Linked DNA regions of Homo sapiens: regions 2 and 3 are each linked to region 1. Evidence: fine-mapped expression QTL. A gene starts in region 1. Each other region holds a variant in brackets. All regions are shown on one strand. Distances are between the middles of the regions.

The links. PIP is the estimated chance that this variant, and not a neighbour inherited with it, causes the effect. A credible set is the group of variants that fine-mapping cannot tell apart.
Region 2: its variant is the best candidate, but not a certain one, in a credible set for the expression of SUDS3 in whole blood (INTERVAL, PIP 0.50).
Region 3: its variant is the best candidate, but not a certain one, in a credible set for the expression of SUDS3 in whole blood (TOPMed, PIP 0.67).

The regions. Positions count from the first base shown.
Region 1 is chr12:118,368,984-118,379,496 of GRCh38, forward strand. It overlaps SUDS3 (SIN3A corepressor complex component SDS3), which reads left to right and starts at 7,572. Exons shown (of 12, transcript NM_022491.3): 1 at 7,572-7,850. The coding sequence starts at 7,709. LOC124903031 (a long non-coding RNA gene) reads right to left here and starts at 7,144. Exons shown (of 2, transcript XR_007063480.1): 1 at 6,973-7,144; 2 at 6,315-6,808. It overlaps TAOK3 (TAO kinase 3), which reads right to left and starts at 3,924. Exons shown (of 21, transcript NM_016281.4): 1 at 3,665-3,924. RefSeq lists silencers at 2,764-2,853, 2,954-3,013, 3,798-4,047, 7,569-7,788, 7,819-7,968 and enhancers at 4,368-4,417, 7,627-8,127.
Region 2 is chr12:118,198,900-118,209,412 of GRCh38, forward strand. It overlaps TAOK3 (TAO kinase 3), which reads right to left. Exons shown (of 21, transcript NM_016281.4): 12 at 2,397-2,564; 13 at 152-358. Among named protein-coding and RNA genes, the nearest start is that of PEBP1, 68 kb to the left of the region's middle. The variant G/A (reference allele first, on the strand shown) is at 5,719.
Region 3 is chr12:118,416,072-118,426,584 of GRCh38, forward strand. It overlaps SUDS3 (SIN3A corepressor complex component SDS3), which reads left to right. Exons shown (of 12, transcript NM_022491.3): 12 at 1-1,962. Among named protein-coding and RNA genes, the nearest start is that of SUDS3, 45 kb to the left of the region's middle. The variant TAC/T (reference allele first, on the strand shown) is at 5,898.

The sequences.
Region 1 (10,513 bases):
TCCCATCTCTACTAAAAATAGAAAAAAAAAAAAAAAAAAAGAAGAAGAAGAAGAAAAAGCCAGGCGTGATGGTATTTGCCTGTGGTCCCAGCTACTCAGGAGGCTGAGGCAAGAGGATCGCTTGATCTTGGGAGGCAGAGGCTGCAGTGAGAGAATATCCCGCCACTGCACTCCAACCTGGGTGACAGAGCTACATACACCCTGTCTCAAATAAATTAAATAAATAAATAAGCAAGTCAAGGTACAATGATTTCATATATTTATAGCTTCTCGTAGTATAGTTTTAGTTTTTTGAAACAAATGAAAAAATTTTTCACAGAATCCCTACCTACTCTCCTAACCCCCCAGGGAATGAAGTTATTATAGGCCTTTACTATCACTACAAATTCTACTGCAAAGAATCTCTCTTTAACGTCTCTGGATCAATACCATAATATAATGTGGTTGAAATGACTGCTTTAGTAATCACTTAGGGGAGTATCAGAGCACTTTCTTTTCTTACAAGGAAATAAATTTAATGTTTTGTCTTAAGAAACAACCATTTGTACCAGTCAGAAATGAGCTAACAAATATGGTGAAAGCATATCTGCTCAAATATTTCTATTACTTTGTAGAACTATTGATATTGAGATTCTCAATCCTTCCACAGGCCATTTCATACATTATATGCATTGCAAAATGAATATATGCCTGTTCTAAATACCCTTTTGAGTTAACCGACCTTATTTTTACTTGAATTCGATCTAGCATTCTGGAAAAATAAATTTAATGTAAAAAAAAATACACTCAATACATCTTAAATATAGTGTCTCATATTTTAAATCTGTATTTGCTGTTGTTGTTTCTCTCATCTGTATAATTTCTATGTCTCAGGAGAGGACTTCTAGTTAGCGGAATTTTTTTTCTTTTTGAGACGGAGTCCTGCTCTGTCGCCAGGCTGGAGTGCAGTGGCGCGATCTTGGCTCACTGCAACCTCTGACTCCTGAGTTCAAGCGATTCCTCTGCCTCAGCCTCCTGAATAGCTGGCCCTACAGGCACACACCACCACGGCCATCTAATTTTTTGTATTCTAGTAGAGACGGGGTTTCATCATGTTGGCCAGGATGGTCTCCATCTCCTGACCTTGTGATCCGCCTGCCTCGGCCTCCCAAAGTGCTAGGATTACAGGTGTGAGCCACCGCGCCTGGCCATGTTAGTGGAATTTTCATAACCACATCAAGCTGCACACTCTCTGAAGCCATAGAAGAACTGCTCTGTATCAGGTAATGTCAAATAAAATCCCTAAACAGTGCTTCTCCTCTACTTATTATTACCCTGATAAAAATAACTTCAGTAATTTTTGTCTTGGATTTACATAGCAGTTATATGTAAGGCATCTGCATTATATATTTAGGAAATAATACAACATTCCTTTATTCCTCTTAGTTGAAACTGCCTATATTGAACACTGGCAAAAGACTTCTAATAAAACACATTCTAAACCTGAAACAAAGGCGATATCTAAATAACCGACATTACATAGTAATTACATTCCTCACTATTTTCCTAAAACCATCATTTTCGATGTCTGCTTCTATAAAAAAAGAAACCAGTCCAAGAGGTGAGGAGATACAACCTATAAACATTGAAAAGGAGGTTTTAAAAATTCAAATACAAAACTGCTGGGTACAACCATAACAAAGCATGTGCATTCGAGTTTGAAAAGTAGGTAGGGCAGTATTAACATATCCTAAGTACTGTGAACAACTAGCCTGATCATTAGTTTAATTTTCACATCCCTCAGAGTAGGAGGCTGTCCCCCAACTCCCACCCCCTATTGCTTCCCACTATTTGTTTCAACCTTTTAATAGATACACTTGCCTCCCACCAGGACACACAGTGTCTGGTTTAAATAGGTTTATCTCTCTCCTTAGCTTGTCCTGGAATTACGCCTAAAGCTCAATCCTGGCAGCTTTTAGGATAAGAAATCTAATTGGAAAGAGCTCTTAGTTTTGCGACTCCAAAACCTCTTTTGAAAATTTAGTTTGACCTTCCAACTATCTCCAACAGATCAAAGTTAAACAGTCCAGATTCCAAACCTAGTATAGTTCCTTTAAATCTGCATTGTAAACATTGATACTGATATGCTGCCAAATCTAAAAAAGTTTCTTAGCTCCTTGAGCTAAAATGAAAAACCAGTAGTCCAGGAAAACGCAAGGGTCTATCAAAGAAATATTCTTATTAATCTAAAACACGGGTCTCCAAAAGGATCCCTGTCCCTTTCAACTTCTTGTGGAGGGGGAAGTGGGGGAGGTTTGAAGAAGCCCCTTCCAACTTTTCACCTGACCTTTTCATTAAGATCAGGAAGCCCCTCGCTTTCAAGACATCCACATCAGACTCTAAGGAACGAATGCGAAGCCAGCGGGCCAGTGAGAAGAGGTCAGGCCGCGCAGGTCTCTTGATCATTCCAAGATCTTTGTCCTGCAGCCAGCCCCACCAGCCCCTCCAGCTCCTCCAGCCCATGCGTTTCACTTCAGAGATGTTTCATGACATAATCCGGCTCCGGAGTCCCCCGGAGTCCCGGGGGCTCACACTCCACCCTCAGGGAGGTCGCTGATGCCAGACCCTGGGAGCACCTCCCCGCTCCACTCGTCTGCGCTGCAGCCGGTTCCTATTTGCCCGACGCCGCGACTGCGACCCAGGCTCCCCGCCGCAGCCGTTCTTGGGGGGGCTCCCGCAACTCAGCGGGCGCGACCCCCCGCCCGCTCCCTCGCTGCTCACGCCGGGCCCCCGCTATGTGACTGGGGGCCCGACCCGCACCCATGGGGCACCGCTCCTCCCTCGGGGTCCGCGCCTGCACCCGACGCTCAAAGCCCCTCTCGGAGTCCCACGCTCGCATGCGCTGTCCCGAGCCCTCTGGGGGTCCCCTCCTCTCACCCCGCTGTCCTGGCCCCTCTCGGGGTCACCCTGCTCCCACCCGCTGTCCCGGCCTCTCTCTAGGTGTCCTGCTCTCAGCCCCGCTGTCTCAGCCCAGCCCCCTTCCGGGACCCCTCCTCTTCTCCCACTGTCTTGGCCCTTCCTGGGGTCTTCTCACACTCTGTTCTAAGCCCTCTGGGGATCCCCTGTCTTCACATCCCCTGACCGGTCCCCTCTCTTTACTCTGTCCTGGATTCTCTCTGGGTCCCCTCCCCTCACCTCGGGGTCTCCTCTCCCCGGGTGCTGTCCCAGCCCCTCTCGGGGTCCCCATCTCTCAGACTCTCAGTGCCGGCCCCTCTCGGGGACCCTTCCCCTCTCCCCGCTGTCCCTGACCTTTTCTGGGACCTGGTCCTTCAGGGGACCCCCTCCCCTCATCCCCCTATCCTAGTGCCTCATGAGGCACCCACCCCTCACCCCACTACCCCAGCCCCTCTCCGGGTCCCTTCCTCTCACGCGCACTGTCCCGGCCCCTCTTGGAGACCCCTCCCCTCAGACTTTCAGTCTTGGACCCTCTCGGAGTCCTCTCCACTCAGAGCCACTGCCTCGGTCCCTCTCGGAGTCCCCTCTCCTCACCCGCTGTCCCGGTCCCTCCCGGGGTCTCCTCTCCACAGTCTGCACTGTCGAGCCCGCTCCCGCAACTCCCCTCACTCTGCCTGGGGTCCCGCCGCCTCGGCTCCCACTGTCATGCCCCGCGCCCCGGTGCTCTCACCTCAGACCTGCTGTCACCACCCCCGGGCCCGGCGCCGCCGCCGCCGCTTCCTCTCCCACACTTGTTCCTGAGTCGCTCTCCTGTGGCTTGTTCCCCGGCGGATCCTTGGGTCCGGTCGCTGAGTGCCGGATCCGGCTGTGCGCAGCCTCTGCTCGCGGTCTCGGCGTTGCGTCCCACTCTCCACGCAGGACCCCGCCGCCCGGCGCCACAAGGACCCTCCCGCGGCCGCCGCCGCTGCTGCTGTCCGAGGTGCGGCTCCTGCCAGGGGTGGCCAATCGCACCGGACTGCGCCGAGCACGCCCCGCCCCACCGTCTCAGTCCGCCCGCCCCCTGCCCCGGACCACGCCCCAAGCTCGGCTCCAATAGGCTCTCTACTGACCTTCCCTGATCGCGGGGCACAGGGCCGGGGCCGTATATAGGTATTTGATTGATGGAGCCTGGGAAGCCGAGCGGTCGATGGAACCCGAGGATTGGCGGAGTTGTCGATGGGCGGGACAGGGCAGGGCGGGGTCTCCTCAGACGCGGAAGACCTTGCAACTTTAGTAACCTACGGGCCCGCCTGGGGTGCGGTCAGTCTTGTTTGTGCTGCTCTCCGGTCAAAGTTCATGGCGCTTCTCCCCACGCCTTTACTTTTCTTGGGAGATTCCCAGGGACCACCATGTTAGAGCCTTTGGGGAGGACCCCAGTCTCTCGCTAGACCTTGCACAGCTTTCTTAGTAATTCTGCCATGAACTAATATAGCATTAATTTGCCCAGGATTTGTAAAAATTTCCTGGATTTAAACCATTTCTTTTTAAAATCTCTTGCAAGGGAGTTGCCTCTCCTTGAATTGAGTTCAGCAGCCGTCAGTTTGATACCGTTGGGGGAAAAAAAATCTATATACAGTACTAGGTGCATACTTTGCCCAACTAAGCGTTCAATGCGGGGCACATTTTGATAGGTGCAAGGACAAAGCTTTAGAAATTTTCAGTTTGTAGGTTTTTATGACAGTAGGAAGACTGTGGTAGGGGAACCCTATTATTAGCTTAACAAGGTTTCAGCAAAGCTATTCAATATAACCTTTTTCCAGGGCCACAGGTTTTAATGATTCTATGTGAACGTGTGGCCAAAGGATAACGAGCTTTGACCCAGGTTTAACATGTGATAATCAGAGACTCCTCTTGATCCACGCTAAAGGATAGTGCCTGCCAGGGGTGAAAGTGCATCATGCTACTAAGACCCATTTGTGTTATTTTTGTGAAACTGGATATGCTGATCAAATCAACACCGGAAACAGAAAACTGCTTTCCTTACTCTTAACGCCAAAAGTAAGTTTATGGACTTTAGAATTTAGCATTTTATGAAGAAATTGTCTCAGGAACACATTTTGATCCTAAGTTTTGTCAGATGTATACAGGCCTTAGTTCTCAGAGAACCCTCGATTGTTAACTTTTTAACTCCAGCTGACAAAATGTGTTTGTGTTCTAAACAGTATACATGTTTCTTCTAGTGTTTTAAGAATCATACGCCATTCATCACCTGAGGTCAAGGGTTCCAGACCTGCCTGGCCAACATGGTGAAATCCCGTCTGTACGAAAAATACAAAAATTAGCCGGGCATGGTGGCACCCACCTGTAATCCCAGCTACTAGAAAGGCTGAGGCAGGAGAATCACTTGAACCCGGAGGCGGAGGTTGCAGTGAGTCGAGATCGCATCACTTCACTCCAGCCTGGGTGAAAGAGCAAAACTCCGTCTCAAAAAAAGAAAAAAAGAAAAAGAAAAAAAAGAATCATACTCCATTCCAATTGTGATGTCCCCCTTTAAAGTTTCAGTTTGGGTGTTAGGGTAGGCAGAGAAGGCCTGGAAGCAAAGAAGTTGTGGAAATGGGGCTGGCAGGGCTTCGTTTCAAGTCAAGTCGAGTTCCTGAGCGGTGTGGCTGAGTACCGTTTTGAGAAGGGATATATAAAAAGATTTCAAGGTGGTAAAACTTGGTTTTGAGGGAACTTGATTTTTACAGGAGTATAGCGACTGTCCAAAATCATATTAAATAAATCTAAAGGTTAGGTAAGACTAAAGCCATAAGAGAATTTTTTTGAGTAGGTCCACCTTCACTAAAGAGCATTTTTTAGTTCTGCAGCTGGCAATCTGGACAGAAAAAAATGGGGTAAGTTTTCATAACCCAAGTGCTCAGTTGTGTCTATTCATTACATATAAAAAAGAAATGCATGACCATTAACAGATGCTGTTTGCAGTCAAGAAGACAGCAGTAAAACATAAGCAGGATAAAAATCTCAGCGTCTTGAAAGGAAACCATTTAGCAACGAAATAAACTTAAAAATTAATTGTATCAATGAACTCTTGATTTCTAAAATCTTTGCTTTTTCTGCACTATGATTACTGCTACTGACAGGAACGCAAGTTACTCAATATAGTTGATTGCAAGTAATTTAGATGTTCTCCAACAGCACAAAGAAAGAAAATGACTTCATCTTTTGGACAAGAGACAGTTCTGGAATCCTAGTTTAAATATAGATGGCAGACCTACGGTGCGATCTGAGAATGATTCTTATTTAGAAGGGGCTTCAGAAGATCTCAGAACTCCTGGAAAGACATCTTAGCATTCCATTCTGGAAATTCTTTAGTTTTGTTGGGAGAAAAAATCACTTACAAATAGAGCCAAGATTTTAATTAAAACAAGGTAGTAAATAAATGTCAAAATAAGTGGGATGAGAATAACGTTTCATTTTCAGAAGAGTCCATAGGGAACAATTCAGAGATAAATTTAATCACAAAAGGTCTGAGAATGGGAATATTCGGTTCCACCCTGGTTTTCACATCTGTTCATTTTCACTACTGGTTGCGTTTCCTACGGAGACTCGGGTGGAACATAAAAGTGGGGCTACTTTGGACAAACCATTAAAAACCTTACCCTTTTTTCTCGCTACACACAACTAGACCACATTGCTCTTAGCTAAAGGGACACCTTAAATCTATTCGTTCAGCAAAACTTATAACACCGTGTTCCTTTTCTACTCAGAGGGAATCGCACAAATTAATTCTTGCAGATACTCAGCTCTCCTGTTTTTTAAGCTTCCACGTGGGCCTTAGCCAAATAACTTCTGGTAGGCAAATTCTCCCCTTCTTCAGTTGAGAGCTCAGAGCAAGCTGTTGGATTAAGCAAAAGCACCTTTTAAAAAATTAATATTCAAGGCAGCTGTACCGCGGAGGGCCTGGGTCTCGGAGTCTAAAAAATCAGACTGGACGTTACTATTTTTTTTTAGGCAAACGACAGCTCGTTTCTCATTTGTAAAACCGGGGGAACATCTTACCGAATAAACCTTACACAAACAGAAAGGATTCCTAAGGGCTGGGAAAATACTATTTTGCTGTCCCCAGGATGGAATATCAGCATCCTTGTCTTTTAGCTCTTAATAAAGCTCTAACTAGTCACAGGAGGAGCCAGGCTGCATGATCACGCACACTCTGGACGTCTAGGTTTTCCGACCTAATAAGGGGGCAGGTCGCGTCGTTCCCTGCTTAAATTAGAGACCACCTCCACCTGCCAAGGGCCCTTCAAACCCTCCGCCCCTAGGTCGCTAACGATCACCGCTTTAGTTCTAGCTCCAGGCGCCGCCTGGCGGCTGTCTCCGGAAGTCGCCTGCGAGCCTCGGGGTCCTGACCGCTGCTGGGCCTGCCCGTAGATTTGCCTGACTCTAGCGAACCTGGCTCCGCCCCTCCCCCACTATACGTTGAGGATTTTAAGACGGCGATGAAAGGGCTGAGGTTGTGGCGACGGGGGCGTCCAGCGGCATCTCCACTCCCCCAAGGATGGCGGAATCAGGCCGTTGTCGGGCAGCTCTCGACCCGGAAGTCGCTCGCGGCGCGAGGCCCCCGTTGCCGAGCGCGGGCGCGGGGGGCGGAGCTCGGCGGAGACGGGGAAGGGGTCGCCGTGGCTGCCGGTCCTCGAGTTGGGGGCTGCCGCGGACACTGCTAGGCAGACGGCGAGTACCGAGCGCGGGTGGCCGCGGTGTCCGTGGGCCACGCTCAGCTGCGGTCAGAGGCGACATGAGTGCCGCGGGGCTGCTGGCCCCGGCCCCGGCCCAGGCTGGAGCGCCGCCGGCCCCCGAGTACTACCCCGAGGAGGATGAAGAGCTGGAGAGCGCCGAGGACGACGAGCGCAGCTGTCGGGGCCGCGAGTCGGACGAAGGTGAGTCCTGCCGCTCGCCCGGCCGCCCGGAGCGGAGGTGGGACCGCTGGGGGAGGGGGTGGGGCTGTTCGGGAGAGGGGCGGGGCGGCCTCCGGGGCCTGGGGCTGCGTGGAGGGGCCGCCGGGAGTTGCGGGGCTCGGGGAAGTTACCCCCATCCGTGCTGGAGTAGCGGGGAAGCCCTGGGTGCGTTACACTCGACCGTGATGGGGAGAGGGGACTTAGATGTTGTCACGCTGGGGGTCCCTTTAAGACCCCGTCCTCCCTCCCAGCCGTTTCTGATTGAACCTCACTCACTAGTAGGAATTAGAAACTCATTTACTGAATACATCGAGTGTAGTTCGCCCCTTTTTTGTGTGTGAGAGCATCAGAGTCCAAAGTTGCCCCTCCCCACCCCCGAAATGCATAAGTCATCTATACTTTAGGTAGTACACTATTGAGAACTCAGGTTGGTTAAAGGAAAGGGACCTAGAACCAGCCAGATACAGGTTTAAATTTGGCTTTGTCACTTAACTCAGCTTTGTAAACTTAAGTTTTCCAGCCTCGATTTACCCAACTGTAATGGAGCTGTTTAATTCCCACACCTGCCCTAGAAGGCACTTCCTAGGGTCGGTATAGGGATTAAATGACATGCGCATAAAGTACTTGGCCTGGTACTGTAAATACTCCGTAAATGTTCTCCCCACCCGCCCCCCTCCCGGAAACAGGTAAGAGAGGGAGAGATTTGCTTAATGGTCCCCAGGTGTTGTGTTTTCAGTCCCACGCTCTTTGCACTGTCATCACAGAGTCTCAGAGCCTTGCTTTTCAAACTGGGCTTTATAATTTGGCAAGTGTGAGGAACGCTATTTTGGAGGGATGGAGGAGGAGGAAGGTGATGAAATGTGAGAGATCAAGGGAGGAGAAATAGGAAACAAAGAGAGACCGATATATGAGCGGAATATTCTGGGACAAAATCGGGCCGTGGAGCAAAAGCTAGACCAGCTGTTTGGAATGGGGCCTACGTTTTATTCATCTGAGTTTCCCGAGTGCCAAGTAATGTGGCTGACCATGACAGGAACTCAGGGAAGGCCTCTTGACTGAAGGAGGGGAGAAGGGTTTGTGGGGAATTGGATCTGCAACAGCCTTACAAAAGACAGCTGCATATGCATGACATACAAAGTTGAGGGACTGCATTCGATTTAATTCCATCAGAAGACACGGCTTAACCAGAGATTTTGAATGTGAAGCACTTGCACTTCATCTCATACCCACGAGGGGGCGCTGTGGAGCCAAAATTGAGTTTTTTTTTCCTTCCAGTATAGGGGCTATTAAAATTTTGTACACACCCCAGCCATTAGCTTGTTCTAAGAACAATGTTTAAGATGTTCTGAAACAGTTTTCGTTTGATCATCTGGCCTCCTCCTTGTTCCCTTTAGTTGTAACTTGGAAAATATTTATTTGTGTCAGATTCCCCTTTTTTATTGTATACAGTTGGCTCTGCGTATCTGTGGGTTCTGCATCTGTGAATTCAACCAAGCGCAGCTCAAAAATATTCAGGAAAAAAATTGGATCTGTACTGAACATGTGCAGACTTTTTTTTTGTTATTCCTAAACAGTGTAGCGTAACAACTACTTACATAGTATTTACATTTTATTGGATATTGTAAGTAATCTTTTTTTTTTTTTTTTTAAGATGGGGTCTCACTCACTCACCCAGGCTGGTGTGCAGTGTCACGATCTCAGCTCACTGCAACTTCCATCTCCTGGGTTCAAGCAGTTCTCCTGCCTCAGTCTCCGGAGTAGTTGGGATTACTGGCACCTGCCACCATGCCTGGCTAATTTTTGTGGTTTTATTTGTTGTTTTGTTTATTTTATTTTTTTTTGAGATGGAGTTTCACTCTTGTTGCCCAGGGTGGAGTGCAATGGCGCGATCTCGGCTCACCACAACCTCTGCCTCCCGAGTTCAAGCAATTCTCCTGCCTCAGCCTCCTGAGTAGCTGGGATTACAGGCATGTGCCGCCACCCCCAGCTAATTTTGTATTTTTAGTAGAGACGTGGTTTCTCCATGCTGGTCAGGCTGGTCTCGAACTCCCGACCTCAGGTGATCCACCTGCCTTTGCCTCCCAAAGTGCTGGGATTACAGGCGTGAGCCACTGCACCTGGCCCTAATTTTTGTGTTTTTAGTAGAGATGGGGTTTCACCACGTTGGCCAGGCTGGTCTGGAACTCCTGTCCTCAGGTGATTCTCCTGCTTTGGCCTTCCAAAGTGCTGGGATTACAGACATGAGCTGCCATGCCTGGCCTGGATATTCTAAGTAATCTAGAGATGATTTAAAGTGTACTGTTGGCCTGGTGCAGTGGCTCATGCCTGTAATCCCAGCACTTTGGAATGCGAAAGCAGGTGGTTCACTTGAGGCCAGGAGTTCGAGACCAGCCTGGCCAACGTGGCGAAACCTCATCTCTACTAAAAATACAAAAAGTAGCCGGGTGTGGTGGTGCACCCCTGTAATCCCAGCTATTTGGGAAGCTGAGGCAGGAGAATCGCTTGAACCCAGGAGGTGGAGGTTGCAGTGAGCCGAGATTGTGCCACTGCACTCCAGCCTGGGCGACAGAGTGAGACTGTGTCTCATTAAAAAGAAAAGTATACTGGAAGATGTGCGTAGGTTATATGCAAATACTATGCCATTT
Region 2 (10,513 bases), 170 kb before region 1:
TTTTTGACTGTAAGAAAACTGTCACATGCCAGGTTTAGTACCACACTGCAGTTGCAAAAAGGTAACTGAAACATCTGGAAGCTAAGTGACTTGAACTGGATTCGCTATGATTGACAAAGCTCACCTCTGTGGAGGGTACCAAGAAACCTACTTTCTTATGCACGACGGAGGAGCTGGAATTGATTGTGCTTTCGTCATCGTGCATCATGACAAGTTCGGAACTGCTCTCGTCCATGACTTCCTGCATGCTGTTCACACTGCTGCTCTGGCTGCCTGTGCTCACGGACATGCTTGGAATGGAATGGTTGCTGCCCAGGCTGTCCATTTCCCTGTTCAGGCTGGTTCCATGTTCACTGTCCTGTAAAAATGGGGCACTGAGGTTAGAAAAAAAGACTGAAGATAAAGAGTCAATCCATTGACAAAAGTGTCAAGCACACTCAATTTTGCAGTGTCAAGTTGCTTTTCTGCCAATCTGCAAAGACAAACTTTTTATGTACTGGCTCCACTACTCCTCCACCATTTTCATACATCTCATATTTGCTTCCTATGCCTTCCCCAGGGGCCATTCTGGACGTGGGTCATAAGGCTCCAAATGCTGCCATCCCAGGGCTTTCCCCTGTCATACACACTATCATATTATCGTGTTGCTATTCAGTAAGCAAAATCAAGCCAGGTTTGTAAGGGACCTTCTGGAACATCAAGGAGCTAGAGGAAGACTGCTGGCCACTAAACAGGTGAGCTCTAGGATATCTTCAAATACAGCAGTGGTCACTTGAAAAAGTAGAGTGGAAAGAGTTTTCAGATATTTGACAAGCAATATGCTCCCTCTGCAAGTCATTATTGAGTAACTTCATATCTAAGCAGAAATATTAATTCTACTTTCCTGGACAGGTAATTAAAGTCTGCCTCCCTCAAGCGATTCTATCATGCTTATCTCTGTAATCTTATTATATATATCTGTTAAATAATACTGGTATTCATCATTACTGGCCCAAAGACTACTATTTGAAAAGTGGTAAAATAATCAGAACATATAATTTATCCATCACAGTGGGATATCTTTTGATATAAGATTGAATAATAAAATTAAATCCATTTAGCTACAAATAAACCTTGTTCTCAAAAAACCATATGGTACACATATAACTTTAATAAACTGTTACTTAGCCATGGCAATATAAAAAATTACTGGGTAATATAAAATGGAAGATAATACATTATTTTTAACAGACTTATTTTCCCAATTAAAGGGGATCATTTCTATATATGCAATCAAGAAATTTTATAGTTCAATGCAACTTTCCGAGCTTCATTTTTAAAATTATTGATAAAATACTTTTATGTTTATTTTATTTTCTGTTAAAAAGCTAAAATACTCCTGTTCTTGTTATGTCTACGTTCTGAAATCCTGCCTCTTTAACTATATCCCTTTCTTCTATCTTCGGTGCCTCTGACTCTGCCCTGGCTCCATCTCTACTGCATTTAAAGATGAAGAAGCCTGCCTTATATTTATGGATCTCTCTACATGCTGCCCACTCTTACTTTTCCTTCTTAACCCAATTTCTGAATCTTAACATAATTATTTTTTCCTGTCTCCCTCTTATCAACTCCCATGAATTATACAACTCCAGTAATCTACTATTCATTCTACCTAGTCCTGTAAAACTGCTTTTACTAAGGTCATCAAGGATTCTCTAACTGAAAACTTCTATCTGTATACTGGCAAGAGTTTATAATGCCAGGACCTTAAACTCAAAAGGCACGAAACTGAAATCATCCTAAATCTACTCTTTCTCCCTGGTTCTTTTTCTCTGTTCTTGGTATTGACATACTCCTAGCCACCCAGGCTCCAATGCTCAGAGTCACCTTAAACTCCTCCTTATCTGTCACTGTCAATGAGAAGCCATGGATTATGAAATCTACCTCTACGATGTTTCTCTAAAGTGCTCCCTTTTCCCCATTTGCATCGACACTGACCTTATTACCTCTTGCATGGACTATTAGCCAGGATGTTGCCCATTCAAATCCATGTTACACTCTGTTGCTAGGATAATCTTCCTAAAGCACAACACCTTTCTGAGTCTAGAACACCCTATGCCCATTTGTCAGAAACTACCCACATCATGTCCTCCAGGAAACCTTCACTAATCCCACCAGCAGACTTATTTTCTCCCCATGATGGACCCCTGCAATGGGGTTACACCTCTGTAGCACTTTTCATATTTTGCCTTATATAAGTGTTATTTTATGAATGTCTCTTGTACAACCCTTCATGTTTCTTAAGGCGGACAGCATCAATTAATTTTTATCTTCAAAAGTTTTTCATAGTGCCCAGTCTAGAACTTTTTCACATAGTGGGCATTCTATAAGTGCCTGCTAAAATAAATTGAACCTACTTCCTCATCCTCCTGTGACTCATTCAAGGGTCCATTCCGTGTCTCTTGGAAAAGTATTTTTTTCATTTTTCGGTACTGTAGGTTATCTAGCTCACGAACTGCATCTTTTGTCCTCTGTATGAGGTCAATGAGGACACGTAGTGGCCGGTCTCGTCGAACAAAGTCATGCTGATTGAGGGAGGAGGAAAAAATAAACTGATAATGAAGAAATGTCCTTAGGTGCAAGGTACAGATATAAAAGGAAATAGAGAATCATAAAATAGTTCTATGGATATTACAGAAATAACAAAATATGATTTTCATGTCATGTGTCCTTCCATATTTTGTAAATCTCATAAAGAGATAGCTATGCTTTTTTCTTCTTCCTTAAGCCCCATTTTGCGGATGTGAGAATTCTTTTTAAAAATTGTACATATTTAAAGTATATGGCAACATGTTTTGATACACATATATATAGTGAAATGATTTCTACAGTTAAGCAAATTAACATATCTATTATCTCATATAGTTACTTCTTGGTGGCAAAGTACCGAAAATCTTTAGTCTTAGCAAATTTCCCAGATATAATACAATATTATCAACTATAGTCCTCATGCTGTACACTGGATCTCTACACTTATTTATCCCACATAACTAAAACTTTGTACCATTTGACTTTCATCTTTCCATTCCCCATCCCTTTCAACCACCTTTCATTTTGTGTTTTATTCTTTGTTTACTTTCCACATGTAAGTGACATCATATGCTATTTTTTTGTGTGTCTGGTTTATCTCACTTAGCATAATGTCTTCTGGGTTCACATGTATTGCTGCAAATGGCAGGCCCACTTTCTTAAGACTATATATAAAATAAATATTATAAATAAACAAATATATAATAAATATATATAATAAAATATTCAGTCATATATATTATTGAGTCTTAAATATCTATATCACATATACCATAATTTCTTTTATCCTTTCATCCACTGATGAACACATAGGATGTTTCCTTATTTTGGCTATAGAGAAAAATGCTGTGATGAACATGGGGGCACAGGTATTTTTATGAGGTGCTGACTTCATTTTCTTCAGGTATATAACCAGCAGGGGGATTATTGGAACAAATTAACATTTTGTTTTTTGGGTTTTGGAGGAACCTCCATACTGTTTTCCATAATGGCAACCCCAATCTACATTCCCACCAACAGTATATAAGGATTCCCTTTTCTCTATACCCTTGCCACTTATTATCGCTTATCTTTTTTGATAATAGCCATTCTAACAGGTGTGAGGTGATACCTCATTGTGGTTTTCATTTCCATTTCCAATAATTAGTGAATGTTGAGTATCTTTTCATATAAGAATTCTTGAGGTTTACTTTATCATATAAGTAATAAAAAAATCACTAGAACTTTAAGAAGTAGGAGGTAGGCTTGTACCTTTTAAATCTGAAACTACATAATAAGCAGAAGCAATGCATAGTATAGTCTATTCTTTTTTTTTTTTTTTTTTTTTTTTGAGATGGAGTCTCGCTCTCTCACCCAAGCTGGAGTGCAGTGGTGCGATCTTGGCTCACTGCAACCTCCACCTCCTGGGTTCAGGTAATTCTCCTGACTCAGCCTCCCGAGTAGCTGGAATTACAGGCATGCACCACCATGCCTGGCTAATTTTTGTATTTTTAGTAGAGACGAGGTTTCACCATGTTGCCTTGGCTGGTCTTAAACTCCTGAGCTCAAGTGATCCACCCGCCTCAGCCTCCCAAAGTGTTGGGATTACAGGCGTGAGCCACCGCACCGCACCTTGTTCTATTCTTATTATAACTTGCCTCAATCCTCACCCCCATACACACTATCCCTTGAAAAACAGACTTGTGAATATTTTGTTCTCTATTTCTGTGGCCGTATAGTGTATGCTTGAAAATATGCCAGTTGTTCAATTTATCCAGAGGTCAAAATTCTGGCAACTTCATTTCCCCAATTAAAAAAAAGGGTCTCTGAGGAGTGAAAACAACTGCCCTAAAGTCCATAAATTAATCTTGATATAAACATCCCTCACTTTCAATATTATTAATGATTGTTACATAATCTGGTTTCCTAGTTTCTCAGCCCATAGCAGGTTAGACAGAGAATAAGAATGGAGAAGTAAGCCTGGCGCGGTGGCTCACGCCTATAATCCAACACTTTGGGAGGCTGAGGCGGGTGGATTACTGGAGATCAGGAGTTCAAGACCAGCCTGGCCAACATGGTGAAACCCTTTCTCTACTAAAAATACAAAATTAACTGGGCATGGTGACGTGCATCTGTAATCCCAGCTACTCGGGATGCTGAGGCAGCAGAATTGCTTGAACCTGGGAGGCAGAAGTTACGGTAAGCTGAGATCACACCATTGCACTCCAGCCTGGGCAAAAAGAGTGAAACTCCATCTCAAAAAAAAAAAAAAAAGAGTGAGGAGTAAAGGATTGAGGACTGGGAAAGGTAGGGTTACCACCTGTTGTAAAAAGAAGTAGCTTTTGTAAGTTCTCTGACAGCTTGAGAGTAGAGAAACAGAGAGAAATTTCATGACTAACAGACCTATCAACCAAACAAATAATAATAAAACAGGTTTGTGGGCTATTTTGCAAAAGGGCAAATGCCCCTTATATAGCCCCTTTTATGCCTCAAGAGTTCACGAAACACTGTTTCTGAGCCCTCAAGAAGTGACATTAGGCTGGGCGTGGTGGCTCACATCTGTAATCCCAGCACTTTGGAAGGCCGAGGCAGGCTGATCACTTGAGGTCAGGAGTTTGAGACTAGCCTGGCCAACATGGTGAAACCCCGTCTCTACTAAAAACACAAAAAATTAGCTGGGCATTGTGATGCATGCCTGTAATCCCAGCAAGCCAGGAGGCTGAGGCAGGAGAATGGCTTGAATCTGGGAGGCAGAGGTTGCAGTGAGCCGAGATTGCACCACAGCACTCTAGCCTGGGTGACAGAATGGAAAAAAAAAAAAAAAAGACATTATTTTTTAAAGGCAAAAGTTCAGTTATGTGGAAAATTTACTTATGTAAAATTGTAATTTGAAGACATTGGGAAAATGAGATATAATGTAGTGGGCCTTAGCTGATGAAATGAATTTAATTTCTTTATAATTTAAACAGATAAAAAATAATAGGGCCCTTGTGAGAAAACAATCTATATGTCTTGTGGTTCTGCATTCTGACTCTCTTAGAGGAATTGTGGTTTTTGCTGTTGCTTTTATAAAATACCTCTTCCTAGGTAGAGTCCTTTTTGAATAAAAAACATCATTCCCAGAAGCAAGTGTAGCCTGCACATTTCAAGGATGAGAAAGAAAGGAAGAAA[G/A]TATTATCATTTTCCTCCTCTAGTGCTTACAATTATAAAGAGCTAATCGGTTTTTAGTAAACTTAAAGCTATGACTTAACATCATAGAATTTTAGAACGGGAATGCCTCTTAGAAAACTTTCTGTTTCAAGGCTGGGCATGGTGGCTCATTCCTGTAATCCCGGAACTTTGGGAGGCCAAGGCGGGCAGATCACCTGAGACTAAGAGTTCAAGAGCTGCCTGGCCAACATGGCAAACCCCCATCTCTACTAAAAACACCAAAATTAGGGACCGGGCATGGTGGCTCACAACTGTAATCCCAGCACTTGGGGAGGCCGAGGCAGGGGGATCACATGAGGTCAGGAGTATCAAAGACCAGCTTGGCCAACATGATGAAACTCCGTCTCTACTAAAAATACAAAAATTAGCAGGGCATGTTGGCACGTGCCTGTAGTCCCAGCTACTCGGGAGGCTGAGGCAGGAGAATTGCTTGAACTTGGGAGAAGGAGGCTGAAGTGAGCCGAGATCATGCCACTGCACTCCAGCCTAGGTGATAGAGTGAGACTCTGTTTAAAAAAAATAAAAATAATAAATAAGAAGTAAAAATAAAAAATACCAAAATTAGCCAGGCGTGGTAGTGCCCGCCTATAGTCCCAGGTACTCGGGAGGCTGAGGCACGAGAATCAATTGAGTCTGGGAGACAGATCTTGCAATGAGCCGAGATCAGGCCACTGCACTCCAGCCTGGGTGACATAGAAAGACTCTGTCTCAAAAAAAAAAAAAGAAAGAAAATTTTTCTTTTTCAAAGTGAGAAAATTTGGGCCCTGAGAAGTTAGGTGATTTCCATAGCTAATTAGTAGAAGAGCTACGGCTGCAACTCAGGCTTTAAAAATTTTTTTCTGCCAGGGGTGTGGGTGGTGGTGGTTATTTTCTGGTGTCCTACTACCATAATTATCTTTCTAAAATACAGGTATGATCATTCATTGCAACAGATACTACATGTCATTCCCCCATTCCAACTTCTTTTTTTTTGAGACAAAGTCTTACTCTATCACCCAGGCTAGAGTGCAGTGGTGCAATCTCAGCTCGCTGCAAACTCTGCCTCCCAGGTTCAAGTGATTCTTGTGCCTCAGCCTCCCCAGTAGCTGGGATTACAGGCGTGCACCATTACGCCCAACTACTTTTTGTATTTTTAGTAGAGATGGGGTTTCACTATGTTGGCCAGGCTGGTCTCAAACTCCTGACCTTAGGTGATCCACCCACCTCAGCCTCCCAAAGTGCTGGGATTACAGGCATGAGCCACAGCTTTCAGACCCAATCTCTCTCTCTCTCTTTTTTTTTTTTTTGCCTTACTTGAAGCACTAGGAAGTAAAGGAACTGAACCCAAGCCTTCTTTGTGGTTACAGATCACTAAGTGACTAAGTTCTGGCCAGTGAGAGGTAGGCAGAAGTTCTCAAGGAAGGTTTTATTTTCTAGAATAAAAAGGCAAGACACATGAGGACAAGGTGTTTTACCCTTTGTTCTCTCTCCTTCTTCCTGCCTGGAATGAAAACTTGAGTCATGGCAATGTAGCAGCCATTTTATGACAAAGACAATAAAAGCTACATGCTAAGGATGGTGAAGTAGAAAGAGAGAAAGAGCTTGGGTCGATGACGACATTGTTGAGCTGCTTAGAGCTTTGGACTGCTTACGCCACTTCCTTTTCCAATGTCCTGGACTTCCTATTACATGAGATAAACTCTTACCTGTTTAAACCTTTTACAAACAGATACACTCTACATCTTAATATCTCACTGTCTCTTAGATAAAGTGTAGCCTTTTACAGCCAGGTTCCTGCTTGTATTTCTAGGTTTAAATCTAGTCATTGCTACTCCTCCTTCCTACACAATTCTAGGTACATTCTAGGTAATTCTAAACCCGTGCATACCTTTCACACCTCTAGGCCTTTGCCTTCACATCTCTATGTTCTCTCTGCCTGCAATCCCATCTCCTCATTGTTTTTTTTTATTTTTATTTTTTGGGACAGAGTCTTGCTGTGTCGCCAGGCTGGAGTGCAGTGGCGCCATCTCAGCTCACCGCAACCTCCACCTCCCGGGTTCAAGCAATTCCCCTGTTTCAGCCTCCCAAGTAGCTGGGATTACAGGCATGCACCACCATTTCCAGCTAATTTTTTGTATTTTAATAGAGATGGGGTTTCACCATGTTGGCCAAGATGGTCTCAATCTCCTGACCTCGTGATCTGCCCACCTCAGCCTCCAAAAGTGCTGGGATTACAGGCGTGAGCCACTGCACCCGGCCTCCTCATTGTTTTTAAAAGCCCACTGTTCTCCAAACCCCTACAACTGGAATGCCCTCGGACTCTTTTAAAAGGACAATTTTATTGTTCTCAAAAATATGTTTACTTTCAACACTCAAATAACACAGAAAAATGTATAAAAAAAGAAAATCGGCCAGGCACGGTGGGTCATGCCTGTAATCCCAGCACCTTGGGAGGCCGAGGAGGGTGGATCATCTGAGGTCAGGAGTTCGAGACCAGCCTGACCAACATGGAGAAACCCTGTCTCTACTAAAAATAGAAAATTAGCCGGGCGTGGTGGCACATGCCTGTAATCCCAGCTACTAGGGAGGGCGAGGCAGGAGAATCGCTTGAACCAGGGAGGCAGAGGTTGCCATGAGCCGAGATCGTGCCATTGCACTCCAGCATGGGCAACAAGAGCGAAACTCCGTCTCAGGAAAAAAAAAAAAAAAAGAAAGAAAATCACCCGAAATTCTACCATCTCGAAATAAATACATAAATATTAAGTTACAGAATATCATTTTAGACATGTCCCTTTCTTTCTCTCAGAACAATGAATAACTAGAAATCATTTTACATGGGAATCTGATTATACAAGCTAATTTTATGTATAATCGATTTAATTAAGGTATATTTGAATTTAACAGGATTAGAAGAGACTGAATTAAAACGATTGCATAGGCTGTATGCAGTGGCTCATGCCTGTAATCCCAGCACTTTGGGAGGCTGAGGCGGGTGGATTACTTGAGGTCAGGAGTTTGAGACCAGCCTGGCCAACAGGGTGAAACCCTGTGTCCACTAAAAATAGAAAAACTAGCCAGACATGGTGGCGTGTGCCTGTAATCCCAGCTGCTCAGGAGGCTGGGGCAGGAGAATTGCTAGGGAGAATCTCAGGAGGCGAAGGTTGCAGTGAGACGAGATCGCGCCACTGCACTCCAGCCTGGGCAACGGCGCGAGACTCTGTCTCACACACACACACACACACACACACACACACATGCACAAATTAAAAAATAAAACAATTGCTTAACTTTAGTTGTAATTTCTTCACCAAAAGAGTTATCTGTTCCTAACAGATCCTCTAAAGTTAAAAAAAAAATTATTAAAGGCTTTACGAGATTGAAGTTACTTTAGTTCTTTTGTCCTATATATTTTAAGAAATGTTATTGTCCATCTACTTGGAAAGATAAGGAAATTAGTATGCATACGTTTTTCCTGCCCTTAGATTTTTCTAATTACATTATTTTTACATTGCAAATGTTTCTAACATTTACATCTGTCCTTTAACCATTTCAATAATTTTACCTCAGTTGTTTATTTAAATGGATTAAGTGTGAAAGTGATGTTTTAATGTCAGGGCAAAAATGCATGGAAAAGATGTATTATTGAAAAATATCTGGGAGTAAGTAGATAGCTTAGCTGGGGGAAAAAAGGTAGATTTTTACCTCACTCCTTGTAACAAATTTTTGCATAACTCTCCCCACCTCCTTTCCACAAAACATCAGCATAAAGAATGTCAAAAGAGAAATAGGAAAAAAAAAATCCAAGATCTACTATAAATTAAAAAGGAAATACAAATGGCTTTTCAACTTACGAGAGAGATGTTCAACATCTCCCATAATGTGAAATAGCAATTAAAACTATAGTGAGAAAAGTTTTCACTGATCTGACAAAGTTCAAAAAGTATCAGTCTTCATACTTTCACGGTGGGACTATAAATTGGTGCAACTGCTTTGAAGGACAAATGGGCAATATCTATCTAAATTTAAAATCCACATTGATGAGCAATCCCACTTCTAGGAATTTCTTTATTTTATTTTTATTTATTTATTTTTTTGAGATGGAGTCTTGCTCTGTTGCCCAGGCTGGAGTGCAGTGGCACGATCTCGGCTCACTGCAAACTTCGCCTTCCGGGTTCAAGTGATTCTCCTGCCTCAGCTTCCCGAGTAGCTGGGATTATCGACGCATGCCACCATGCCCAGCTAATTTTTGTATTTTTAGGAGAGATGGGGTTTCACTATTTTGGCCAGGCTGGTCTTGAACTCCTGACCTTGTGATCTGCCCACCTTGGCCCCACAAAGTGCTGGGATTACAGGCATGAGCCACCGTGCCCGGCCAGAATTTATTCTTTAGATATTCTTATACAGGGACAAAATGCCATATACACAAAGATATTCATTACGGCACAGTTTGTAATAGCAAAAGATTGGAAACATCCTAAATGCGTTGGTTAAACAAATTATGGTCCATCTAAGAATATTATGGAGCCATTAAAAAGAATGAGGTAGCTTTGCATGTAGTAATACAAAACAATATCCTAAGCACACTGTAAAGCAAAAAGAAAAATCAGGGTGGAACGGTTTTTATGGTTTGCTGTCATTTGTGCAAAAATAAAAACAACATTTACTTTTATATGCATAAAATATCACTAGAAGGAGAGGTACAAAATAGGTGCAGTGGTTGCTAGTGAGGGGGCCTGAAATGGGAGGGAGATTTCTTTTTCATGTTCTACCTTCTCTT
Region 3 (10,513 bases), 47 kb after region 1:
ATGGTAAACACAGGCTTCACCTGTTCTTGTTTGTTAGCCTTGACTGTGAGGCAGGACTTCCCTCGCTTGAACTGTTACACATACGATGTGTGTGTCACATCACATATTGTGCAGCTGTTGGTTTTCATGTAGTGCCCTGCGATGGAAATTAGATATATTTCATGTATTTTTCCATTGAAGGTGGAGTTTTTCAATGATCATGTGTTTTGTCCTCCTAAACAGTATACCAAAGTTTGTTTTTATAGTTGAGGATTGTATTGATAACCACTGGGGTTCCGCATTGAAGCAGGAACAAATTGCCTCTTTTTCTGGCCTTCTCTGTGGGACCTCTGCTTTTGTGAAGCAACTATTTATTTGAAGACCAGGGTATGGGCACTTTTGCCTTCTCTCCTCTCTGACTTTTGAGGGTATTGAGGGCGCCCTTAGTCATAGTCTCGACTCCGCCATTGCCTTCTCCTCGGCGTCCTCACAACTCTTAATTGGGCCTAGTGAAAATGGGGGCAGGTGAGAAGTCCATTTTGAGAATCAGCATAGTAAATTACATTTCTAATCCCAGAGGACTTAATATTTTCTTTTGTCACCCCAGAGGTGAAAAATCAGCAGTTGAAGCCTGACAGGCCTCAGTGGTGACCAGGAACAGAAGCAGCCTTCCTGTTAGTAGATGGGGGTACTTCTGTGGTGGGCAGAAGCCTTACTAAAGGGGAAGACAGACTTTGAAGTTTCTAGACGAGAAGGAGGCTAGCTTCTAGCCTGGGTGGCCATTATTCCAAAAGGTCATTGTTTCTCACTAGACCCCAGGGCACCAGATGAATTTCCAAGTTTAAACTCTTTCCTGCAGGTGATTACTTTGAAAAAGGTTGGTCCAGACCATTTTGATCAAGAACCTGTATATGTGTTGTGTTAGAGGCATCTGCCTCAAGTCTATGTACAGTGTTTGCTGCGGGTGTGTTCCAATATTCATTTTACCTCTGCTTGGGGGTTTTGTGTGTTCCCCTCCCCCCATGCCCTGCCTACCCCCTTTTCCCTGAACCACGTCCTTTTGAATAATTTCCAGATGGATTTCTGTAGCCATACCAAAGCCAGGGTGTTTTCATTCATGCGGATACTAGTATTTATAGATGTCTGACTACCTAACTTAATTTTTGTTTTTGAACTTCTAATTGGGGCCAGTGTAAGGTCGATCCCAGAGGCTGATCTGCAAATCAAGCTACATGTATTTGTGTATAAGACCCTGTGTTCAGGACTGGGTGACTTTTCTAAGAAATATGGGGTTTAGAATGGGGTTGACTGTATTTTTTAACCTAATTCTGGAGAGAAGATTGTATTTTTTACAGTTTTTTGGGTTTGGCTTCCTTCTCACATTTCTTTAGCTTTGAATTTTTACTAAATAAATTTCCTCCTGATTAATTTTTTTTTTCTCATCTGGGAATTTGAAATCTCGGTGCTTACTGTTACACCAATTTGTCCAAAGAGTTGAAATCACTTTAATGCCAGAACATGGTAAATTTGCAGCCATTTCAAGCAGGTGATGGTCTTTTTTTATAACATCGTTAACGGGTACCATTAAATATTCTGAGAGGTGAATGTAAAATATAAAAGGTATAGGTTTTTTTTTTTTTTTAAAGAAAACAATAAACTTTCAAAGAGAAAACCAGCATGAAGTCTGTATTGTATCCATTGACTTGATAAGTGATAGAAATTTATTTTAGGTTTTTGATCCATTGCTTATGGGGAAAGGAAGTTAGGGCAGAGGAAGGGATATTCTAGACATTTAATTCTTAGTGAAGACTAAGATACAGAATGATGTCAGGCTAATACTCAGTTTTGTAAAGAGCAATCTGGGGTGTTGACCCTTAAATGTTTGTGCACTCTTCTTGTTGCAGATAAAAGTCATTAAAAATCAAGTGAATAGAATGGATCTTGGGTGGAAAAACAATCTTGAAATAAACTTGTGATTGAGGATATTGTTCATTTGGTGCATGATTAAGGAGGATATTGTTCCTGGCTTTTGAGATAGTGCCTACCAATCTTAACCAAACAGTGATGGTATTTGTACTGCTCCCGGGGTCAGCCAACAAGCCTGCGTGCTGCCACAGGTGACCGACCTGTGACCCAGTTATGGCACCCCTTTGGGAAAGACTGCTTTATGCTTTAGATGATGGAGAGGGGTGGTTTCTGTTTTTAAAATGTTTGAATTAGACAGAAATGTGCACAAGTTTTAATTGTAGAAGTTGTTGAAATCTCTCAAAGTGAATTCATCCATGTAACTATTATAGCATCCAGATCAAGAAATAACATTCCCAGAACCCACAAGCCCCTTAGACTTTCAGCTACTCCTCCCAACTAGTTTTCTCTATTTTAAGTACCTTAACCTTCAAGCTCTTGAGCTGCTTCCTTCCATGGTTGTTCTAGAAGAGCCAGGTACCTGGTATAGGCTAGGGATTGACCAGGAATGCAAAGAGCTAGCAGCAAAGGATATGACTAATTGGGGAGGGGAAAAACAGATTCAGGTCAACCTGCTCACCCTCCCCATTGTTCCCAAGGCAAGTGGGGCTTGCCCTTGATGTCATAGTCTGCCTTTTCCTGAGTACTTTGTATATATGCCAGGCACTGTACTAAACCCCTCATGGGAGGCACTTTCTCACTAATCTTCACAATCTCTGAAAGAGTACTAACTCCCAAATTTAAGGCTGGCTCAGTCTAAGCCTTGACTTAATTCTAGAAACCCAGAGCTCAGCACTGTGCCTCATACGTAAATACTCTGTAAATGTTAGCAAATGATATTAGGGTATGATGTGCCAAGGCAAACTGGTGAGTAATAGTGCATGTTCTGGGTGCTGGCCCCTTCCCTTGTGTTACCTCATTTAAGCCTCATAATAAATTAAGGAGAGTACACTGCTGCTGTCACCAGTATTCAATTATTATTTTGGTCACCCATGAAGCAAGCATCTCACCAGTTTTTAAAGAAGGAAACAGACTCCTTGAATTAGAGGAGGTGATTCTCCAAGGTCACACAGTACATAACAGTCTGGATTTAAAGTTTCCAAGCCAGGTTTCCCCTAACCACTACACTTTGCAGTCCTTCCCCATGTTAATCTGTTAAAATTACGTTCAACATTTCTGCCTTTCTTCAGGATTTCCCTGGGAGGTTTTGTTTGTTTGTTAAAATACATAAGCTGCTTTCACCTCCTATACACACATGCTCCCAGAGCAAAATGCTAGAAGTACAAACACTATTATTTGCAGGACCCTTTCCCCTGCCTGATAACTCTGGGTTTCTCTCTTGGCAATATAGTTGAGAGCCATGGTGACCAGCCAAGAGCTTGCTTTCTGTTGATCCTGCATGAGTATAACCATCCTAAAAAGGAATGGAAACAGCTCATTGGTCGTGATGAGAACTGCTTTATCCAATAAGCTACAAGAGAGCCTTTGGGCAAAAACATGTATCGGTATTTTTTCAGATCACTTCCTCCCTCCCTGCCTTATCATCTATGGAGTTGGAGCCATTGAATTGGTTTCTAAAAATGTCGGTATGGAGTTGGGCCTTCAGCATCTTGATGCTCTGATGTCACTGGACCTTTCCATGGCATGCCCTCCTGTAGAGGCACTGTAATGGAAGAATAAATACCTTAGCTCCATGTCACCTGCCCCGAAACTGCTCAGTTCTAATTGGCGACCTGCTTATCAACCAAACCAGGAGTGTGCAGTCTTTGGGCAGAGGCAGGAGTAGAACCAATTTCTGGCCTCTTGCACTATCATTTGAGGAACTCTAAGCCCCATCCTTGGGAAGGCTAAGCACTTTTCCTGCTTTTAAAAAGCACCAGATGGAATGAACTAGAAACATCATTTCACTCCCTTTGAACATAATATGGTGAGGAATACATTTGCTTTAGGAACTTTGGTGTTTACCAGAATAGATGTTTTTGTGAATAACTGATTATTAAGACAAAAAAGTAGATTTAGGAGGATCCTTAGAGGAGAGAGGTAGATAAGAGACAGCATAGGTACCGAGATGCTTAATCCCTTTGCTCATTTTCTCTAATCTGTGTTTACTCGATTCCCTGAAAGATACAGATCTATAAAATATTCACTTTACTGATACGAGAAGACCAATAACCCGAATCTTAAAGATTCATATTTTTCAGAAGTCGGAGACTTAGCGGTGTGTTGTGTTTTTCCGTAGGCTGATGCTCAGATCTGTTGGCATCACCTCTCTCTGCCAGTGGTGTGGACAGGCAGGGGGTACAGTAGGTGGCATTCCCAGAGCCAGTCAGGAAAACAATGCCCCAGGTCCTGGGAGTCAGCAACACCGGTACGGAGCAAGCAGATACTCAACGCAGGAGTACAGTACAGGTTAGCAAGCCCCTGCAGGTAACCAGGAACCCCCTTTATTTCACCACCAATTATTTTCATAAGTGTTTGAGTGTTTACTGAGATGCAGGGTGGCATTATGGCTAAGAACAGAAGCTTTGGAATCAGGATTTGAATCTGGCTTTACTGTTAAGCTGGCTAGGTGTGACCTTGGGCAACTTAATTTCTTTGAACCTCAGTTTCCTCATTTGCTAAATCATATCTACTTCAGATATGTTTTTGAGGATTCTAATAATATTAACACAGCCCCAATTTCCTTCTGGTAGGAATACAATTTAAAAACATATTTAAAACATAGCACCTACTGTGCTAAGTATTCTGTTAACTCACTGAATCCTCGTAACAACCCTATGAGGTAGCTACAATTATAGTCCTTGTTTTGTAATTGAGGAAATCGAGAAACAGAGAGGTTAAGTAACTTGCTCAAGGTCACACAGCCAGTAAATGGCAAGCCGGGATTCTGAGCCCAAGCAGTCTCTCCAGAGTCCCTGCCCTCATTCACCCTGCTGTACTGTGAGGAGTACATAACACAGGGTTGGACATGGTTACTGCCAGTCTGTGGAGACTGTCCCTACCATTACAGATGCTGTGGCCATTTGTATACTTCTCTCTTTGGATGCTAGTCTGACTACTAGATCCTAAGCGATCAGAACCATTTCAGGAAAGCTACTTCAGCTAACAGCAGACCACGAAGGTAAAGCTGCTGGCTTTAGAGACCATGCTCAGCATCACCTCCTACAAATGGGTGGGGACTGCCCCAGGTGCAGGGGTGAGAAGGACTCTGAGGCCCAAGTTCCAGTAGAGCAAGAAACAGTTGCCCAATCCATTTTTTCTGCTGTGAGCAAGGGAGTCCATTTAGTGTTCCTGATTTAGTTTGAGCCCTTCATTTGAAGATGAAAACAGCTGCAGCCCAGAGATGTTAAATGACTTTCCTGTGGTCTTAGAGCTATAGTCAGTACCACAGCTGGGCTATAGTCAGTACTACAGCTGGAATATGGTTAGGACAATCATTTGAGGACCTCTTTATGCCGGGCTGGGTGCTGGAAAGCATAGTGGACAGCTCCTGGGATATGAGACTTTCAGGACTAAAACCAGAAAGTCCCAGGCACACTGGGATGGAAATACCCTAACACTGCCATCGTTCTATGGGTTCATTTTTGCCTCTGTCTGTACCTGCCCAGTGGAGGTGATGAAGGCCCTGAGTTCATAATCCTGGCCTAGCCACTCATTAACCTTGGGACATTTTCTTAGTCTCTGTGTGCCTCAGTGTTAGGGTATTCCCATCCCAGTGTGCCTGGGACTTTCTGGTTTTAGTACTGAAAGTCTTGTATCCCAGGAGCCCTGTCAGACTGGGGCAAGCTGGGATGGTTGGTCACCCTACCCAGTTTCCACTGTAAAATGGGGGTGACAACTGCTGTTTTTTCACAGATTTGATTTGAGGGTTAAGTAATTTATTATTGATAAAGTACTTAGAAATAGTGTTTGGGACATAGTCTTTTCTCTCTCCCTTTCTGTGTATATAGATA[TAC/T]ACACACACACGTACATATGTGTGTGTGTAATATAACACATATGCACATGTATATATACACACACATATACATACACACATTGTTAGAGATGAGGTCTCACTGTGTTGCCCAGGCTGGAGTGCAGTGGCTATTCACAGGCACCATCATGGCTCACTGTAGCCTCAAACTCCTGGCCTCAGGCGATCCTCCTGCCTCAGCCTCCCAAGTAGCCGGGACTAAAGGCAATACATATTTATTTTTCCTTGTTATTCTTGTTTTCATTATTATTGGAAGAAAGTGTTTCCACCACAGAACGGGTCCCTGGAGACCTTCACTCTTATCCCAAACAAGACAGGGAACTTTGCTATGATAATCTTTTGGTCACCTGCAGCCAGTTGTTTGGAGTGTTTCTTCATCTACTTGAAATAGTAAATAATCATAAGCTTGAGGAACACATTTGTCATTGCATTCAATTCAAAAACCATTTATTGAATTTTACTGCATGTTAGGTAGTGTTCTAGGCTCTTTTGGGGGATTCAGAGAAAGCTAGGCAGGCCTTGAGCAGTGTCTATGACCAAGAATGGGAATTCCATACAGAGGAAATGGCTTGAGCAAAAAGACAAGTGGATATGAGTCATGTTTAAAGTCAAATAGTAGCGTGTGTTTAACATACATCACAAGCCTTGAACTTTTTTTCTTTTTTCTTTTTTTTTAGACAGAGTCTTGCTCTGTCGCCCAGGCTGGAGTGCAGTGGCACAATCTTGGCTCACTGCAACCGCCGCGTCTCACAGGTTCAAGCGATTCTCCTGCCTCAGCCTCCTGAGTAGCTGGGATTACAGGTGCCTGCCACCATGCCCGGCTAATTTTTGTATTTTTAGTAGAGACGGGGTTTCACCATGTTGGACAGGCTGGTCTTGAATTCCTGACCTCATGATCCACCCACCTCAGTCTCCCAAAGTGCTCGGATTACAGGCGTGAGCCGCCACGCCTGGCCACAAGCCTTGAACTTTAAAACCAGTTTGCTCCCTGTTTGGTTATCTTTTTGCCCTTTCCCATCGAGGACTCGCCTTCCTTTCCTTTCTGCCTCTCTCCTTTCTTCTCCCCACTGTGCCTGCCCTGCTTGCTCTTCTTCCCCTTTCTGTCACCAGTGCAGTGGCTCATGGCTGACCTGCAGTGATGCTTTCCAATTTCACACTAACATGCTCCTGAAAGTATTAATAAGCTAACTCATATGTAAAACCAATAAAGGGCAACAGCACACATTCCTGTTAGACAGTAATTTTACCTGATTCCCTTTCTCCTACTTTGATCAGTCCTCTTCTCTCAAACATGGTTCTTTGACCTTCCCAGAAGTGAAAGCTTATGGGAATTCAAGCTTGGTGGAGCCCTGCGGGCATATTAGGAAGGAATAAGGGCTCAAATTTATTGAGCACTTATGATGTGTTTGGGTGAGGGCTAAGTACTTTTTATACATTATTGTATTTAATATACTAAACTGCCCTGTGATGTGTGTCTTCGTGATTTCCATTTTACAGATGATGAAAATGAGGCTTGAGGAGGGGAAGTGTTCACCTCTGCACCACGTTCACACATTTCCTTTCCCCTTTGGCTTCTGTCTTCCTAATGTAGATGGCCAAAGCATAAAGGACCCTTAGTTGTCATCTTAGCCAACCCCTTCCATTTTTCGCTTCTGGAAACAGACGCCAAGCTAGAACTCAGTTCTTGTAACTCTCAATTCAACAATCTAAATGGAGAAAAGAAATCCAGTTGTGAGACTCAGAGGCAGGGGCTTGAGACAGGTTTGAATCTGGATTGAACTCTGCTGCTTACAAGCTGTGTGAACTTAGGCAAATCACATAACCTCTCGGGGCTCCAGTTTCCTCATCTAGAAAGTGGGACTAATAATAGCAAGGTTTATTGTCAAGATTAAATGAAGTCATGCAAGCAAAACAATATAATAACTATTGTGCTTCAAACAAACTCTGTAGGTCACTTGAGTGCTTTAGAAAATATAACCTGGCCAGGTGTGGTGGCTCACACCTGTAACCCCAGCACTTTGAGAGGCTGAGGTGGGAGGATCACTTGAGCCCAGCAGTTTGAGACTAGGCTGGGCAACATGATGAAATGCTGTATCTACGAAAATTATCCAGGCGTGGTGGTGTGTGCCTGTAGTCCTAGCCACTCAGGGCCTGGGGTGGGAGGATTGCTTGAGCCCGGGAGGTTGAGGCTGCAGTGAGCCATGATCGCACCACTGCACTCCAGCTTGGGAGACACAGACCCCATCCCAAAAACCAAACAAACAGAAAATGTAGCCCACACCATGCCCGTGCCGGGTGGGCATGGTTATCACAGGGATTGCCTACCCCAACTCCTGCCCCACCTGCTCAGGCAGGTCCCATTGTGCCTCAAGGATAAGCCCATGGTGAACTTCCAAGGGTACGCCATCCAGGGAAGGCCAACAGAAGCCACTAGTCAAGTGGCTTGACTAGTTCAAGACAAGCAGATCTCCAGGCATCTGTTTTCATCTTGTTAACCTTCTCACTAGAGAAGAGTTTGAATTGCTGCCTCTCTGGGTGTGTGGAGATAGCCACTGGATTGTGAGCCAGAGAGGACAGGGACTGGGGCTTTTTGTTTTTCCTCCAAATCTCCCAACACGAGTACATTGTAGGTGCCCATTGAGTGCTTGCTGAATGGAGGAATGGTTAGCTACTGCCTCCTACTTCTCGTTGCAGGACATCAATATCTTTCTAAAATCATAGTAATGTGAAGGCTATCCAGAAAGTCAAAAGGTTCCACAGAGTTGGCCACAAAACAGAGTAGCCCCCTGCCCTCTGCTTTATTTCCCCCTCCCAGAGATTATTTTATCTCTTTTGGCTGATTATTTTATCTCTTTTAGCTGATTATTTTGGTATCTAGTATCTATTTCTAAATAGGCTGCTTATTATTAAAGCTAGATATTTCAGTTCCAGGCGTTATCTACTAAATTCCCACTGTGGGGTCATCCTTCGCTCTCCCAATGTAGTTATTTCAGGATTTTCGTTAGGTCAGTATTCAACGTTTATGTTATTATGACTATGTAAATGCTAGTTGCAGCTGAGCCGTGTTGTACACTATGATTGCTTTATCTTTCCTTGACAGCTTTTCCCCCCGGGAGTTAATAACTGTCTTTTTTTTTCTTTTTGTTGTTTGCTTAGTTTTCTGTGTACTTATTACTAATTCGACCTTAAACTCTTCACCAAGTGCCCAAATTCTCCCCCTAAGGCATTCTGATGCACCAGGAATTCCAGCAATTTTGTTACCTTGAAAAATCTTCCTTCTTGAGGACCCCAATTTGCTCTGCACTGGACTGGTTCCTCCTGGCGTGGCACACAGCTGTCACTCTGGAGTTCCTGCATCACCATGCTAGAGCTCCCTTATCCCTTCTTTGGGTTTGAATCTTTCATTTTTTGTCTTCCTGTTTCTTCCTGTTTGTCTTCCTGTTTCTCTACTTTACTCGCCCATTTTGTTAAAGCACATTTCCAGCCACTTCCCAAGCAGGGTTGAAAAGACTTTCATTCTGTTCTTCTAAGTACTTGGCACTTAAAGTATATTTTAACCACCCCACCCGTTCCTTCATTTTCATTTCATTTCCTCGTGCTGTTCATTCATTATTGTTGGCATTCTCCACTGTCAGTCTTAAGACGCAGATGTTTGCATGTCTGTGTTAATCTACTTTCCATCCACTAAAATTTGGTTGTTTCTTCTGCAATGCCCTTTATTTTGGTGGGTTTAATTCTAGTCTGGACATTTTTCTTCAAGATTTTGAAGACATTGTTTTATTGCTTTTAGCTTCCAATGTTGCCCTTGAGAAGTCAGAATTATTCTGACTATTGATTCTTCTAGATGACTTCTTAACATCTCTGGAAGCTTATAGCATTCTCAGTGTTTTGAAGTTTCATGATGATGGGCCTTGGTGTGGGCCCACTATGTTAAGCTGTTAGGAGGTCTTTCTTTCTTTTTATCATCTGGGGAGAATCAGTGCTTATGAGGGTTTTTCAATTCTGAAAATGTATGCCCTTATATTCTGGGGGAGAAATATATATATAATGTGATAGTCAGCCTCCAAATGGCTTCCAGTGATCCTGTCTCTGGTAGTCACACCCTTGTGCAGTTTACCCTTGTACTGGACCAGGGTTGATCTCTGTGACCAATAGCCTACAGCAGAAATGATAGTATGTCACTTCTGAGATTGGGGTATGAAAGATAGTGCAGTCTTGGATCACTTGCTTTGGGAAATGCCAGCGACCATGTTGACCAGCCTTATGGGAGGCCCGTGTGGCAAGAAACTGAGGACTCCTGCCAATATCCAGCTGGTAACTGAGGCTTCTTGAAGCCCTGTGAGTGAGTCACTTTGAAAGTGGATTCTGTAGCTCCATTCAAGCCTTCAGATGAAACTGCAGCCCTTGCCAACAACGTGACTGCAACTTCACGGGAGACCCTGAGCCAGAACTATCCTATTAGGCTGCTCCCAGATTCCTGACCCTCAGAAATTGGGTAAGATAAAAAAAATTGTTATTATAAGCTGCTGAGTAATTGGGCCAATTTGCTATGCAGCACTGGATAACTAATGTAATGGATAATACATTTTCTCTGTT